2 linked regions of the Homo sapiens genome follow. The protein of the gene in region 2 purifies or fractionates together with the protein of the main gene of each other region. This does not show direct contact. Each region holds a gene or a part of one and is shown on either strand. Other genes may lie near its edges.

Region 1 (3,657 bases), on a different chromosome or scaffold from region 2:
TTAAGTAGAGACAGGGAGACAGGGTCTTACTAAGCTGCCAAACTCCTGGGTAATGCAATCCTCCCGCCTTGGCCTCCCAAAATGCTGGGATTATAGGCGTGAGCCACCACACTCAGTCAGATCTCTTCTGAGTCTGTAACCTTACATTTTTCTGCCACTGCCTCCCCACCTCCTTTCTCTCCACTTCAATCCAATTTCTACACTTTTAACAAGTGAGCATTCCCCTCCTGCTTGGGACCCTCCTGTGGTTCCAGCGCCCTCCAGATGAAGGCCAGGCTCCTTAGGCTCAACTCCCAAAGCCCTAGACAACTTGGCCTCTGACACACTCCCATTTGTTCTGTAAACCTGAGCCACACTGGCCACTGTGTGGTTCCTGTGGACACCCACTGAACACCCAAAGCACACGCCTGCCCTCGTGAACTCTGGCTCACTGCCCTTCCTTCAGATACGTCTCATTCAGGTCTCTGCCTAACTGTCACCTCCTCAGAGAGTCTTGCCCTGACCACCCTTTCTAAGAGGTCGGCCCATCACTTCTCAGCCCTTTGTACTGCTTGATTTTTCTCAACAGCACCTGACAGGTGTTCCCCTGTGCCTAGACCAGTGCCTGGCACACAGTACAGGCTCAAAAACATGGACGGAGTGGAAATTGATTCCAGACATGAAGAAAACAGCGCAAGGAAAGGGACAGAACCTGAAGGAGACGGGTATGGGGTTATTTTAGATAGAGTGGTTGATGGCCTCACTGGGAATGTGACATTTCAGCAAAGATTGAGCACCTGGATCTGGGGAAGATGGCTTTGTTAGTGCACAGGCCTCAGGCTGAAGAGCTCTGCAGTCTTGGGGTATTGGGATGTAGCTAGGGGTGAGGCAGACAGCAGCAGGCAATGGGGGGCCGGGGCCAGGTCAGGTGGGCCTTACAGAGCTGGTAAGTGGCTTGGACATTAGGCTGACAGTAACAGGAGGCTCAGAGAGAGTATGGAGGAGGGGACTGACACCACTGATGTCCTTTTTTTTTTTTTTTTTTTTTCCTGAGACAGAGTTTCCCTCTGTTGCCCAGGCTAGAGTGCAGTGACATGATCATAGCTCACTGCAGCCTCAAACTCCTGGACTCAAGCAGTCCTCCCACCTCAGCCTCCTGAGTAGCTGGGCCTACAGAGTGTGCCACTATGCCCCAAGTCTTTTGTTTTCTGGTTTTTTCATTTGTTTGGTTTTTGGTGAGGTTTTTTTTTGTTTGTTTGTTTTTGAGACAGAGTCTCGCTGTTGTTGCTTGGGCTGGAGTAGAATGGCACAATCTTGGCTCACTGCAACCTCCACCTCCGGGGTTCCAGCAATTCTCCTGCTTCAGCCTCCCGAGTAGCTGGGATTACAGGCACCCGCCACCATGCCTAGCTAATTTTTGTATTTTTAGTAGAGACGGGGTTTTACCACGTTGGCCAGGCTGGTCTCGAACTCCTGACCTCAGGTGATCCACCTGCCTCGGCCTCCCAAAGTGCTGGGATTACAGGCATGAGCCACCACGCCCAGCCTTGGTTTTTTCAGAGACAGGATTTCACCATTGCTCAGGCTGGTCTTGAACTCCTGGGCTCAATCCTCCCTCCTCTGCCTCCCAAAGTGCTGGGATTACAGGGGTGAGCCACCACGCCCGGCTGCTGATGTCCATTTTTTAATATGCATGTTGCCTGCTCTACAGAGAAGACTGGAGGGGAGTGGGAAGAGGGAGATGAGTACTGCTCAGGCCACGCCAGCCATGAGCATCATTTGGATAAGCAAGAGGGGCCATGAGCGCTGTGAGTCCAGATGGAAAAGGCAGAAGAGGCACAATCTGCAGACCAGTTAGTTGTGGGACATGAGGGGAAGAAGGGAAGGAAGAACCCTGGGATCTGAGCAGCTGGCCGAAGAGTATGTGATTTGCTGAGTCAACGAAAACCTGGGGAAGGACTGTTTTGAGGTCAAACCAAGAGCTCTGTTTTGGCTATAAGTCTGAGCTGCCTGTTAGACATTCCAGTGGAGGTTCCGAAATGGTCAGTGGGTATTGTAAGAACCAAAGAAAGAGGAGAGAGGAGAGAAACACGAAGGGTGGCTCGACAGTCAACAGGTTTATTTCAAACCTGGGAGGGACTTCCGACCGAGTTAGGTCAGAGCCACACTCTCCTACAGACTAAGAGTTTTTAAGGATTCAGGGTGGGAGAGTTTATCAAAGGCTTGAACTGTTTCTGTGTCTCTCTGTTGTGCTTATCTGGGAGGGAGAGTTGTGTGTCTGTTCCTATACAACTTTCTGCAGCTGCAGGCATACCCCCCAAGTCTGCTTTTAGCTTCCCTTAGTGCACCTGAAGGGAACAGAATGTCCTTATTAAGGCCCACTGTTATACTGAGGCCCATTGTAAGAGGGTGAAGTTTGGCCGTTACCCAGGAAACAAACCTGTTGACTGTCAAGTCACCCTTCGTGTTTCTCTCCTCTTTCTTTAATTCTTACAGATATATGAGCCTGGAGTTTAAGGGAGAAGCAGGAACGGCATTCAGAGGGATAGCAGAGAATATGGGTGCTGAGCAAAGACACAGATTTAGTGATTAGAAGTGAAACAGGCTGGGTGCAGTGGCTCACACCTGTAATCTTGGCACTTTGGGACACCAAGGCAGGCAGATCACTTGAGCTCATGAGTTCGAGACCAGCCTGGGCAACGTGGTGAAACCTCATCTCTACAGAAATACAAAAATTAGCTGGGTGTGGTGGTGTGTGCCTGTAATCCCAGCTACTGGGGAGGATGAGACAGGAGGATCACTTGAACCAGGAAGGTCAAGGCTGTAGTGAGCCGGGATCACGCCATGGCACTCCAGCCTAGGTGACAAAGTAAGACCCTGTCTCAAAAAAAAAAAAAAAAAAAAAGTGAAACAAGAAACAAGATCAGCTGGGCACGGTGGCTCACGCCTGTAATCCCAGCACTTTGGGAGGCCAAGGCAGGCAGATCGCCTGATGCTGGGAGTTCAAGACCAGCCTGACCAGCATGGTAAAACCCCATCTCTACTAAAAATACAAAAATTAGCCGGGTGTGGTGGCAGGCACCTGTAATCCCAGCTACTCTGGAAGCTGAGGCAGGAGAATCGCTTGAACCCAGGAAGTGGAGGTTGCAATGAGCCGAGATCGTGCCATTGCACTCCATCCTGGGCAACAGAGTGAGACTCTGTCAAAAAAAAAAAAAAAAGAAAGAAAGAAAAAAGGTCATCGGCTGCAAGTAAGAAGCATGGTGACAGTTCGAAGAGAAGGGAGAGTGGGAACGGAAGGGAGGGTGGGAACCAAAGCGACTACAGCAACATGGCAGGGTTGCTGGTATTATAGTCCATTTAAGATCTCTGCACTTGAATCTAAAATGGAATCAGTCTGCACAGTTTTGCAGCTCTTCTCCAGGCACTTTCAGCTATCTGAGTTAGGTTAACCAATGTGAGAGGTTCTTCTAGAAGAGAGAGGAAAGGGAAAACAGTACAACCACGATGGGACACTGGAACTAATCAGGTTAAGAATGGGGGAGGGGAACACACATAAGGCGGCTGCAGAGCAGTGAGGAAGCAGTGGGGTCTGAGACCTGCTGAAGGAGGCACATTCCAGTGAGTGTGAAAGATGGAAAGGAGTGGGCAGAGAGTGGGACAGATGCCTGAAGGCAA
Region 2 (2,356 bases):
ATCTGTGGCCAACTCCAATCCTGGCTGACCTCTGTCCCACGGTCCTGCACAGTGTTCTGGGGTGGAATGGATTTCGACATTAGACTAGGAAGCAGATGGCCAACAGTGAAAAATAGCAGAGTGCAGATTCCCTTGAGTCGATGCTTCTCCTACCCACTTCAGAGCCCTGTCCTGGGGGTGGAGTTCTGACTAATGGGGCAATACAGAGACAGAAACAGAGATGGAGGGGAAATGAGACTGAACGTGGAGCCAATGGAGGGCCTCTGAGGACATGAGGTCCTGCTTGACTGCTAGGGAGATCATCCTGGAAAAGGGTGGGAAGCTATATGGTGGGTGGAAAGAGTGAGGGGGTCTCAGTGTGGGTAAGGACCAACGTGAAGGCTTAGATGTGTGAAAAGGTGGTAGAAAGGGCATCACAAAGCAGGTTTGTCTGGCTGGGATGAGAGTCTGCCCAGAGACTGGTGGGAATGCGGGAGGCTTGGGATAGTGTGAGTGTGTGCATGTATACATGTGTTTGCAGCCTGGGTGAGGGAGGTTTGGTATAGCTGTGAGTATGCATGTAGGGGTGACCACAGTGCAAGGTGGGTGGGAATCTCCCAGGGGAGAGCAGCCCAGACCTACTCCCTCCTGGAGGGGCTTGTGGTGGGCAGCACATGCTGACTATGATGCTGCCTTTGGCCCCAGTACCAGGAGCTCCAGATCACGGCAGGGAGACATGGAGACGACCTGAAGAACAGCAAGATGGAGATTGCAGAGCTCAACCGCACCGTCCAGAGGCTGCAGGCAGAGATCAGCAACGTGAAGAAGCAGGTGGGACGGGTGCTTAGGGAGGGCTGACCAAGCCCTGCACCTCCTACAATGCCCTGCCAGATCGAGCTCTGGAAACTTAACCATTAAATGGTCTCCAACTGTCTCTGGAGCAGATTGAACAGATGCAGTCACTCATTTCGGATGCTGAGGAGAGAGGCGAGCAGGCCCTCCAGGATGCGTGGCAGAAGCTGCAGGACCTGGAGGAGGCCCTGCAGCAGTCCAAGGAGGAGCTGGCCCGGCTGCTGCGTGACTACCAGGCCATGCTGGGGGTCAAGCTGTCCCTGGATGTGGAGATCGCCACCTACCGCCAGCTGCTGGAGGGCGAGGAGAGCAGGTGGGTCTGGCAGCTGTGTTTCTGGGGCTAAGGCTTGAGATGCACCCATGAAGCTGTGGGACTGGCTATTTGGAGAAAAGATAAGCCCCACCTTTTTGGGAAGATTGGTAGCCCAGGGTGAGCAGAAACATTCCAATTAGAGGCAGAGGCTGTGTGAATGGACAAGCCTCTTCACATAGGGAGAAGTCATTGTTATCATTCCTCCACCTCCAAGTAGAATGTCCTTATACCCCAATCCAAGCCTCTGCAGCTGGGTATTCACCCCCAATGCTAAAAGGCTTCATGAAAACCCTGAAATTTCTCTCTGCCCCACTGGCTTCCTGACCTCTGCTCATGCACACACATTTCCCTAAGGCTTGGGGACACCTCTGATCCAGATGTCTGTGGGCCACAGCCTTCTCTCCTCAGGCCCTGTGGGTCTGGCTGACCGTGTGCTTTGGTTTTACAGGATGTCAGGAGAGCTGCAGAGCCATGTGAGCATCTGTAAGTAGCAGAGCCCAGGGGCAGAGAGAGGCTGGTGGTGCTGGGTGGAGGGAGGGCCAGGAGGTGGCCAGCAGAGAACGGAAAGTCTGGCATTTTAGCTTCCAGTCCTGTGCAATAGACACCAAAGTAAGCAAGTGTAATGGCAAAGCCTGGAAGAATTCATTTGAAATAAATGGTTATGATTTCAGGTCTGCTTATCTTAATTGTTATGATGCCTTTTTATTAAATGATGCCTAGGAGGAATCAGCAGCGGCTAGAACTCTTTAGGGTACATATTCAATAAACAATGTAAGTGTGTTGCTGAGAGGAACCCTGGCATCCCTTTGTAGTATGAAGAATACTTTTCAAGTAGGAACACTTTCAATTTTCAATGTATGGGGTTTGCAAGTCGATGCCACGGGTGATCGAGGATGGAGGAGGCTGCAGGTGCAGGGGCGGGTGCAGGTGGGGGCCTTGCCCGGTCCCTCTGACCCCGTGTGCACTGTCCCCTACCCACAGCCGTGCAGAACAGCCAGGTGAGCGTCAACGGCGGCGCGGGAGGCGGCGGCAGCTACGGCTCAGGAGGCTACGGCGGCGGCAGCGGTGGGGGCTATGGCGGCGGAAGAAGCTACCGCGGAGGCGGGGCACGAGGCAGGAGTGGAGGCGGTTATGGCAGCGGCTGCGGCGGCGGTGGCGGGAGCTACGGAGGGAGCGGCAGAAGCGGCCGCGGATCCTCGCGCGTGCAGATCA

Evidence for each region. Proteins that work in one complex are often made in the same cells at the same time.
Region 1: the proteins of KRT77 (region 2) and ARMC9 purify together in Homo sapiens (co-immunoprecipitation; one large-scale study listed by IntAct). This does not show direct contact.

What each region holds. Positions count from the first base shown.
Region 1 is NC_000002.12:231,201,547-231,205,203, reverse strand, and holds part of ARMC9 (lisH domain-containing protein ARMC9), read right to left. Parts: intron 1-3,657. UniProt on the Homo sapiens protein: Involved in ciliogenesis. It is required for appropriate acetylation and polyglutamylation of ciliary microtubules, and regulation of cilium length. Acts as a positive regulator of hedgehog (Hh)signaling.
Region 2 is NC_000012.12:52,691,209-52,693,564, reverse strand, and holds part of KRT77 (keratin, type II cytoskeletal 1b), read left to right. Parts: intron 1-684; coding exon 685-810; intron 811-923; coding exon 924-1,144; intron 1,145-1,592; coding exon 1,593-1,627; intron 1,628-2,125; coding exon 2,126-2,356.